2 separate regions of the Homo sapiens genome follow, and region 2 is linked to region 1. Evidence: fine-mapped expression QTL. A gene starts in region 1. The other region holds a variant in brackets. All regions are shown on one strand. Distances are from middle to middle. Region 1 holds the start of SLC2A10 (solute carrier family 2 member 10). Region 2 has its middle 9.4 kb from the start of TP53RK-DT.

The links. PIP is the estimated chance that this variant, and not a neighbour inherited with it, causes the effect.
Region 2: its variant is fine-mapped to the expression of SLC2A10 in blood mononuclear cells (TOPMed, PIP 0.96).

What each region holds. Positions count from the first base shown.
Region 1 is chr20:46,707,260-46,712,634 of GRCh38, forward strand. It overlaps SLC2A10 (solute carrier family 2 member 10), which reads left to right and starts at 2,390. Exons shown (of 5, transcript NM_030777.4): 1 at 2,390-2,481. The coding sequence starts at 2,478.
Region 2 is chr20:46,677,218-46,682,592 of GRCh38, forward strand. It overlaps a transcript of SLC13A3 not described here. Among named protein-coding and RNA genes, the nearest start is that of TP53RK-DT, 9.4 kb to the right of the region's middle. The variant G/A (reference allele first, on the strand shown) is at 2,392.

The sequences.
Region 1 (5,375 bases):
GGCCAAGGGTGATAAGCCTCCTAGTGTCCATGTAGATATAACCTAATCTCTACTTTCTCCTGGAGATGATCCATCTCCTTTTTCTAATCAAGATAATGAACAATAATGAAATGTGTATTCGTTATTTATCACTGTATAACAAATTATTCCCCAAATTTAGTGGCTTAAAGAAACAAACATTTATTATCTCATGTCTTCTAGGATAAAGAATTTAGCATAGCTAAATTCTAGCTCTGAGCAAGAGCTCAGAATCTTGCAAGGTTGAAATCAAGGTGTCAGCCAGGACTAGAGTCACCTCCAGGCTAGGCTGAGGGAAGATTCACGTCCAAGCTCACCACAAGCTTGTTGGCCAGATTTAGCTCCTTAGGGGCTGTTGATTTAAGGGCTTTAGTCCCTCACTGGTTATTGCCTGGAGGCATTAGCTATGTGATTCAATAGCTTCGCTCCATGTGGGCCTCTCCATTGGGAAGCTCAAAACATGGCAGCTCAATTGCTTCATCAGAGCAAACAAGTGAGAGATCTCGAAACTGAACAACACAGAAATCATTTATAACCTAATCCGAAAATGACATCCACCATATTTGCCGTCTTCTATTCATTAGACGTTGCTAAGTGATACTTCTAGTGACATCTAGAAGAGAAGAGGATGCCACTAGGCCACGAATACCAGGAGGGTCTCAGTGTAATCAGACTTTTTATATGAAGGCTCAGGGATCCAGGCACCAGTATTCCAGTGACCCAGCCTCAGAAGTTACACAGTGTCACTCTGCAGGCTACTGATCAAACCAGTCACAAGCCCACTTTTATTTCAAGGGAAGGAACAACGAATTCTGGAGCCATGTTTTCAAACTGCCCCAGCTATTATTATTTTTGAAACTGTGCAAGGATCCCCTGGTTCAGAGGTCTTATGGATGCTGTCATCTTTGCTGAGATACCTGCTTGTGCCTTCAGCATGGAAGAATGCCTGTGTATCCACCTGTACGGTAGGGGTCGCTGTGACTTTGACTGGTGAGGGTACAGCCACTGGTGCACATGCAAAGGTGCCTATCTGTGAACACGTATTGAGAGGCTGGATAAGGCTGCGCCCATGTGAGTGCTGGGCTTGTACGTGCATTTTTGCCTGAGTGAGCATTAGTGGCAGTGTCCCCAGCCTACCCCTTTCCTGAATCCCAGGCTCATAGCCAACTGCCCACCTATTTCCACGTGGATGCCTGCTGAGCACCTCAAATGTCACACAGCCAAGACAGAACTCTGGATCTCCTTTCCCAGCCACAAGCTGCCCCTCTTCCAGTCTGTAAGTTCTTACGGAGCATATATATGTGATCTGCCTACTTTTCTCCAACCTCACCACAGTGACATGAGCCCAAACCAACTTCTCACCTTGCAACAGCCTCCCAGGTGGGAAGGCTGAGTATTCTGGCCCTTAACCAGTTAGAACTCCCCAGTTATCTGTCCTGCTGATGGGGTTGAAATCTACATTCCTGACCCTGGCCCACCAAAGCCCCTCCCTTAGCTCCCATCTCCCTCCTCTCTCCCTGTCTTCTCCTCTGCTCCAGACACTCTGGCTTCATTTCTGCGTTTTTTGTACCCCATAAGCTCCTTCCCACCCCGGGGCCTTTGCCTTTGCTGTTCCCCCTGCGGGGAATGCCGGATCTCTGCTCAGATATCCTCTTCTCAGATCAGCAAGCTAAAGCAGCCACCTGTGTCTGCCTAACCCACCACCGTAGTTTAACTTTCTGCCTAGTCTTTATCACTAGCTGATATTTCTCAGGATCCTTTAGTTACTTCTTTTTCGTCTTCCCCTCCTAGAATGTAAACTCTTCCCCTCCTAGAAGGTAAACAAAAGACCTGTTCTGTTTTGTTCTTCGGCCCATCCCAAGCCTAGCGTAGTGCCTGGTATGTGGTGGTGTCCAAACCCAAGCGTGGAGTGAATGAGGGATGAATCCATGAGAGAGTGAGCGGCTCCAGTGGGTATGCGCGAGTGTCTCACTCGGTGTAGATGTGTGTGTTGTGTGTGTTGTGTGTGTGCGCACGCTGGGGAGGCCAGACAAGTGTGGACCAGTGATTGGGGCACCTCTTCCCTGCAAAGAGGCCAGGGGAAGACAGTGCGTGTGGGGTCTTCTACCAGGGAGGATGGCTTGCTGGTGTGTCCCCCCCAGGGGAGGACTACCAACGAAGGGGACCCGGGAGATGGCGGGTGGGGGCCCCCGGGAGGACAGTGGGCGAGGGAGGGGGTCCTTGCCAGGCCTGGGGCGGCCGGGGGCGGTCCTGGGCTCCCCTCCGTCCCGCCTCCAGGCCTCGGGGCCTGGCTGGCCGACGTGGCGTTGGCGGCGCTGCGCGCGGGAGGGCAGGGCAGGAGGGACAGAGGCGGGGGCGGGCCGGAAAGTTTGTCCGGCGGCAGCGGCGTTGGGGACTCCGGCGGGGGATGCGCGCCCGGCCCCTCAGCGCCCCCAGCACGCCGCCGAGTCCCGCTCGCCATGGGTAAGTCCCGATCGGGCGCTGCCTGCTGGAAGCCCGACCCCTTCCCAGGGTGTAGACACCGCCCCCACGCTCCCCTAAGAGTGCGCGCCCCCTGGCTCCCCCAGGGCCGCCCCGGCCGGATACCGCCTCTCGGGTGGCCAGCCCGAGACTGCAGGCCTGCGGCGGGGGCTGGGACGGGGCTCGGTCGCGCTTCCTTCCATCTTCCTTTCTGCCCCGGAAAAGTGGCCCCTCACTTGCTGCAGCGCCCACTCGGGCCCAGGCACTCTCCCGGGCGCCCTGATCCGACAGCCCCAGGCAAGTGCAGCTGTTCCTGGTCTGCAGATGAAGAAATGGAGGCTCCGAAAGAAGCAAAGCAGTTCATCGATTCGCTGAGCGCGGTTGTGCCCCAGGCGCTGTTGTGGGCCTGGGGACGCTGTCGCGAACGAAACTGCGAACAAAACAGACGAACCCCCTCCTCTGGACGTGATTCTGCAGAGAGGGGACAGAGAAGGAGATTCTAACACAGCATTGGGGTGGGACGCGTGGGGAATGGCTTTGTTGCCACTCGGGACTAGGGCTCTATTTTTCTCTCTGCATTCAGAAGCCTCGAAGGATCAGTCGTTGATTCTTGAGTGAGCACCTACTACGTGCCAGACATTGATATAGGGGTTAGAGCTTCAGCAATGAACAAAATAGACAATAAACCTCTCTCTCATGGAGGTGGCATTCTGATTGAGCAGCTGGGTAAACACGTTTATGAATAACTTCAGAGAGAGATAAGGTGTTGTGGAACCCATAAAATGGGGTGGCGTGAAGGCCAAGGGCGTGGGTTCCTTGGGTAGGTGGTCAGGGTGGGTTTTCTGGAGTAGGACGTTTTGGAGCTGAGAACTTCCTCAGAAGCGGGTCTTGCTGAGATCTGGAGAAAGAGCTTCCAGGTGGCAGCAACAGTGCAAAGGCCCTCAGGCAGGAATGAGTTTGTGTGGCCCAGGCCAGGATGGCCAGAGCACAGCGGGCAGGGCACTGAGGTCAAAGGGATGGCAGAGAGGTGTGCAGGGCTTTGTAAGCCGTGGTGAGAAGTTCAGATTTTATTGCAAATGCCACGGCAAGCTGGAGAAGGGTTTTAAGCTGGAGCGGGGCCGTGACCTGAATTATCTTTTCTTTTTTTTTTCTTTTTTTTGAGATGATCACTCTGTCGCCAGGCTGGAGTGCAGTGGCGTGATCCCGCTCACTGCAACCTCCAGCTCCCTGGTTCAAGCAATTCTCCTGCCTCAGCCTCCCAAGTAGCTGGGATTACAGGCATACACCACCACGCCCAGCTAATTTTTGTATTTTTAGTAGAGAGTGGGTTTCACCATGTTGGCCAGGATGTCTTGATCTCCTGACCTCGTGATCCGGCTGCCTCGGCTTGGGATTACAGGCGTGAGCCTCCGCGCCCGGCCCTGAATTAACTTCTCAAAGTTTGCTCTGAGTCGTTCTGTGGAGAATCACAGTCGCTAACACTGGCTATGATGTAGGTAAGCATAGAAGGTAGGCATTAATATCCCATTTGTAGATGGGGAAGCCCAGAGAGGTGAGGTGAGTTCCCCAAGGTCACACAGCTATGGAGAGGAGAAGCTGGGAAGGAGCCCCAGCATTCTGACTCCAGTCTGCATTCCTAACCACTGCACCACGTGGCCTGTCATGGTGGATTAATGGTAAAACTGGTGACCAGTTCCGGCTCTGACAGGAGAGTCCATCCTCTTAACCCCCACAGCACAGTGCCCCAGAGCCTGAGAAAAAAATGAGGCCCAGAGAGGTCAAGGTCTTCTTAAGGACACTCAGCTTAGCCCTAGCCCCTTGTTCCTGCACCTCCTATTCCTGCTAAATCAACCCAACAGCCATTTGCTGAGTGCCTTCTATGGGCAGAGCGAGGGCTGGGTGTTAGTGCTGGGGGAGGCATAAGTCATGGCTGCGGGTCTCTGTCCTCCCCAGAATTCTTACACAGCAGGGACCAGGGATTGGGCTCTCTTTATAGCCTCTGGGGGCAGAACTGGGTTCTAGACCCAATTCCTCTCACTTTGTTCCACCATTCCACTTTGACCTGGGAGAGTCTGCCAACTTCTCTGGTCACTATCAAATACCCTTATCACAGGGTAGCCATGAGAATGATGTGAAAAAATGAATTACAGTGCTCGGCTCATCACCTATATCTGGTAAATGGTGAGTGAATGTGAGTTTTTATTTTATATTGCACCCAATATTGGGATTCTGGAGTCAGACTGCCCGAGTTCAAGTTCCTGCTATGTGACTTACAAACTGTGCCACCTTGGGGAAATGTCTTCACCTCTCAGTGTGGTGGTTATTTCTGTAAAATGGGAATGACAATAGTGATTGTCATAGGATTGTCTAGGGATTAAGCCAGCTGGTACAGATACTGCCCCTTAGGAGAGTGGCTGGCTATAGTGGGTACTCCAAGTATCAGCTGTGGCTGCAATTGCTGGGACATTTGGAAGCCGGCCATCTGCAAGAGGATATTCATACAGTTCAATTTCACATCTGGCTTCTCCCTGGAGCTTCAGGGAAAGCCACAGCAGGTCTCTGGTGCAGGAGGGACCCAGTGCTCTGTGACCTCTGGTTGAGACACTACTCTAGTGTCACCAACGGGAGGCCTAGGACTTGCAGCTGGAGATACTTGCATCCCAAACCAGGGTTCTCCCCCCTCCCCCTGCCCCCTGACCCTGTCCCGGGGAAGCTGTGCCCTCCACAGCGAGGGGCTTAGAGGATTAAGGGATTTCCTCCAGTGTGGGACATCTTCACTACAGCCTATGTTAGGCAGGTTATTAATAGAAAGGATGCACACTTGCTAAACTTAGGTCAAGCCGTCTTAATGTGTTCTCCTTAATTTTCTTTCTTTTCTTTTTTTCTCTTTCTTTCTT
Region 2 (5,375 bases), 30 kb before region 1:
CTTTTTATTGAAGTACAACATAAATACTGAAAAGTACACATATAAACATGCCTGCAGTTTCATGAAGTTTTACAAACCCAATCCACCCACATAACCAGCATCAAGCTCAAGAAATAGAACTTGTCCATCCCCCTAGAAGTCCCCAGAAGCCCCCTCCAAATCACTGCCCCTCCCCCAAGGGCAGCCACGCTCCCAACCTTTTAATTATATTTTGAAAGTAAAGCTGGCAGGATCTTTTGCTGGATCGAATGGGGGCGAGGGGAGCTGGTGAAAGACAGGAGTCAAAGAGAGCCCCCAGGTTTGGGGTGAAGTTCTGGATTCCTGGGGCTGCCATTTACTAAGATGGGAAACTTGTGATGGGGGCAGAGACTATGGGTGAAACCAGGGGTTTGTTTTGGGACCTGTTGAGTTTTGGGATGCCCGTGAGGCCCTGGGGAAGATACATGCCATCTTATCTAAAGGTTGCAAATTCAATGCTCTCAGGGACAAGTAACAAGAGGAGTAAGACATATCTCACTCTCCTCTTACCTCTGTAAGAAGAACAACGGGACCAGCGTGATGACAAACAGTGACTCAGAGCCAAAGAGCAATAGGGAGCAGTGGAGACTGGGGCAAATTGGAAAGCACAGGCCCCTCTAAAAGAAGAGGTGTTAGAACAGGGTCCCGTGTGGCAAGATCTCCTGACGATGTTTCCAGAGAAGCCAGATGTCTAGATTTTTACATATGAAACAATCCATATGTATGTTTGAAATTGTTTAACATTGGCATATGAAATTGTTTAACATTGGCAACTAAAAAGCAAACATTATGTGAACCCAAGAAAACTGCCTACAGTTACAGCCACCCACTGGACCTAGATCAAATCTTCCACTTTACAGGTGGAGAAACTGAGGCCCAGGGAAGTCTAGAATTTTCCCCAAACTCACAGAAGGAGTTGGTGGCAGACTTTGGCCAGGCCTTGAATAGGCTGGGTCTCAGTGCCGGGTTCTCACCTCCCAGGCCTTGGTAAGAAGGGGCTGGAGTTAGTCTGTCTCCTTCACTTTGATCTAAATAGAGAGGCTCTAACCTGACAGTAAAAGGCAGCAAGATGCTATGAACAAGTATGGCTTTGGCGGCCTGGGGTCTCTATCTGTGTTGGTTAGGAATGCTTTTGGCTTCAAGTGATGGAAAATCTGATTTATGGTAGCTTCAGCTTTGGAGACGTTTACCTGTGCATATAATAAGTCCAGAAAGTGAGGTCTGAGGTCACTAAGAACAGACTCACACTCTGCCCATCCCTCTACCTCAACATCTTCCTCTCATTGACTCTTTACCATCAGGGGTGGCCTCATGGCCTCCAGATTGCTGCTGAACCTCCGGTTATTGCCATTGCATTGAAAAGCAGACATTGTTGATGGGGATGTGCTGGTGTCAGAGCAGGGAGAGAATTCTTACATCTTCTCACCTTCTAGGAGAAGCAAAATCTTCCACAGAAGCAATCTTCCCAGATTTGCTCTTGTATCTTATTGGCCAGAAAAGGGTCACATGCTGACACGGTTTGGAGGTTTGTCCCCTCCAAATCTCAGGTTGAAATGTGACCTCCAGTGTAGGAGGTGGGGCTGGTGGGAGGTACTGGATCATGGCGGCAGATCCCTCGTGAATGGCTTGGTGCCCTCTCTGTGGTAATCTCTGAGTGAGCCCTGGCTCTGTTAGTTCACAAGACAGCCAGTTGTTTAAAGGAGCCCGGCTCCTCCCCTTCTCTCTCTTGTTCCTGCTTTCACCATGGGACACTGCCTGCTCCCCCTTTGCCTTCCACCATGATCGGAAGCTTCCTGAGGCCCTCACCAGAAGCAGATGCTGGAGCCATGCTTGTACAGCCTGCAGAACTGTAAGCCAATTAAGCCTCTTTTCCCTATAAATTACCCAGCCTCAGGTGTTTCTTTACAGCAATGCAAAAGGCCTAATACACATGCCCATTCCTAATCAGGAACCGATCTGACCTTTCCTGAGATGAAGCTATCTTCGCCTAAAAATATCTAGACTAATTGGGATTCTGTCCAAAAGGAATAAGAAGGGTAGGCCGGGTGCCATGGCTCATGCCTATAATCCCAGCACTTTGGGAGGCCGAGGCAGGCAGATCACTTGAGGTCAGGAGTTCGAGACTAGCCTGGCCAACATGTCAAAATCCTGTCTCTACTAACAAATACAAAAATTGAGACCATCCTGGCTAACACGGTGAAACCCCGTCTCTACTAAAAAATACAAAAATTCGCCGGGCGTGGTGGCGGGCGCCTGTAGTCCCAGCTACTTGAAAGGCTGAGGCAGGAGAATGGCGTGAACCCAGGAGGTGAAGCTTGCAGTGAGCCAAGATCAAGCCACTGCACTCTAGCCTGGGCGACAGAGCGAGACTCC[G/A]TCTCAAAAAAAAAAAGGGGGTGGGGGATGGGCTCACGCCTGTAATCCCAGCATTTTGGGAGGCCAAGGCAGGTGGATCATTTGAGGCGGGACTTTGAGACCAGCTTGGCCAATATGGTGATATCCCCGTCTTCACTAAAAATTCAAAAATTAGCTGGGCGTGGTGGTGGGCACCTGTGATCCCAGCTACTGGGGAGGCTGAGGTGGGAGAATTGCTTGAACCTGGGAGGTGGAGGTTGTGATGAGCCGAAATCACACTACTACACTCCAGCCTGAGTGACAGAGTGAGACTCTGTCTCAAAAAAAAAAAAAAAGAGGGTGACTTTTGGTAGGCAATAATGCCTGGCACAATTTCTACCATTTACAGGCTGATGACTCTGGGAAAGTTGCTTAGCACCTCTGAGCCTCTACTCCCCCATCTGTAAAATGGGTATGGCAGATGGTATTTTGTTTCTTGCCCTCTCAGCATCCATTTCCTATTTTTCTGATGACATACTTTGATTTTCCTTCAGGTAGGAGTTTTCAGAACAGCAGCCTCAGCATCACCTGGGAAGTTGTTAGCAATGCAGATTCTCAGGCCAGTCTCAGACCTTTGATTCAGAAGCTTTGGAATGGCAGCCTGGCAAGGTGGGAAAGTGCGTCTTGTCTACCCTTAGCTTATAAGGGGAACAAATGGAGCTGTATTATAATCACCTGTTTGCTGTTCTCTAAAAATAGTAGCCACTTAAATGACATCACGATAATGATATTGCTCATTGTCACCATGTGCCATGCACTGTGGTAGTGCTCCAACTGCTCCACGTACCTCCTTATATGGATGCTTGTGGTGGACATGGATGTGCGACCCAGATCCCTTAAGGAAGCACCTATTGCCCCAGAGGCAGGGAGAGTGGTCAGCAGTCAGCTCCTGTGGTCAGCTCCTCCAGGGATCAACTCACAGTAGGCAGAGAGTGGCCTTGCCAGAGCTCGTGTCCCTTCCAGGCGTGACACCCCCAACGACTGCATAATGTGAGACTGCAAAGTCCTGGCCATCTCAGGCCATCTTGTGACATCTCTGAAGAGCCATTTCAACTGCAGAGCTCCCGCAGAATTGACTGAAGCTGCTGCTGGGTCTCAGCTCCAGTTCTCCCTCTGCCCGCTCCTGTGTACTCTGCCCTCTCCTGTGTCCTCTGCCATCTCCTGTGTCCTCCATGCTGTGGATGTTGATCCCAAGGGCAGCTCAACTGTATCTGAGTCTGCTTCCTGGGGATCCTGACCAGTGACAATACTCACAGCAACTCCACCATGCAGCACCACTGTGAGTCCATTTTACAGATGAGGACACTGAGGCTCAGAGAGGTACAAGGAGGGGATCCTAGGCCATGCACCTGGTAAACAAGGAGACATGGGCTGGGAAGCCAGCACATTTGTGAATAGAGAAGTGGCATGTTCTGGCTTTAAAAGGGTCCCCTGGGCTGCTGAGTAAGGAAGAACGGAAGGGGCCAGGACAAGGGCCTCCCAGGCCGCGGCTGGACCTTGTCATCCCTGCAGCTTCTTCAGAAGAGCCAGACGCAGCCCATGTGCTCACTAAGTACCCAGTGAAGGAGTGAGTGAAGAGAGAATGGATGAAAACATTAAGACTGGAAGGAACTAGACATCCTCACGTCCGTCTCCCTCATTACATGGTGCATAATTAGCACAGTGCCTGCTACACTTAGGTGCTCAGCTAAGGTGGCGTTGAGTGAATAAATGAACACGTTCAAGGAAAGGAGGGAGGGAGAGAGGGGCATGGACTTGGGAAGAAAAGATGGAAGTAGAGGAAGGAGAAGGGGAGAAAAGAAAGGGAGGAAGAAAGAGGGGAAGGAGGGAGGAGGGAGGAGGAAGAGAAGAGAGAAAGTGAAGGGAGGTTTACCTGTTCGCACCAAGAATGACAGTAACTTACGACCCCTGGTGGCAGAAAAGTGCACAGTCCATTGAAATTGCGGTGCCTAGAATTAAAGGACGCAAGGGAAGACTCCTAGTTCCCCAAGAGGTTCAGGCTGCATTCATTTGTTTTCTATTGCTTTTAACAGAATACTTAAAACTGGGTAATTTATAAAGAAAAGGAGTTTATTTCTTACTGTTATGGAGGAATACAAGGTCGAGGGGGCACATCTGGTGGGGGCACAGCCTTCTTGAAGGTGGGGACTCTACAGAGACCTGAGGCGGCACATGGCATCATGTGACAAGGGGGCTGGGTGTGCTAGCTCAGGTCTCTCTTCCTCTTATAAAGCCACCAGTCCTGCTCTCATAATAACCCATTAATCTATTAGTCCACACGTGGATTAATCAATTCATGAGGGCAGAGGCCTTAGGATCCAATCACCTCTTAAAGGCCCCATCTTTCAATACTGCTAAGTTGGGCATTCAGTTTCCAACACATGAAATACGGGGAACACATTCAAACCACAGCAGGTGCAGACCCTTGTAAGAACATGGGCTCCTCCATCAGGGCTCTGGCAGTCAGTGACAGCTGGGTTAGGACTAGGGTGAAGCAAGTGAGGCACAAATTTAAGGAGGCATCCAAAAACTCAATAATCCAAAAAATATCTTAATGGGATGGTTTTAAAAATCAAATTGGCAAACTATCGCCCACGGGCCGACTGTCTGATTTGTAAATAAAGTTTTATTGGAACCAGGGTCAGGAATATGGTGGATTCTTGCAGTTAAATCAGAGATTATGCCCTGCATGCCTTCGCTAATGTAGATGTTCCCAACCCCTAAGGTAGCACGTGGTGTGGGCGTGGTCAGCTCAGCTCATCCAACAATAAGAACACAGCTTGTTTGGAGCACTCACTATGCCAGCTTTAAAGCAACTCTACTCTGGAACTACCTCTCTTGGCCCCATGGACTGGCCACAAAAGCACTTTTAAATGTTCCAGGAATGTGGGCCTGTGTCAAGTGTTGGTCGCATCTCGGTGTCATATCACATTTCCCTGGTTCTGCCATTTACTAACTGAGTGGCC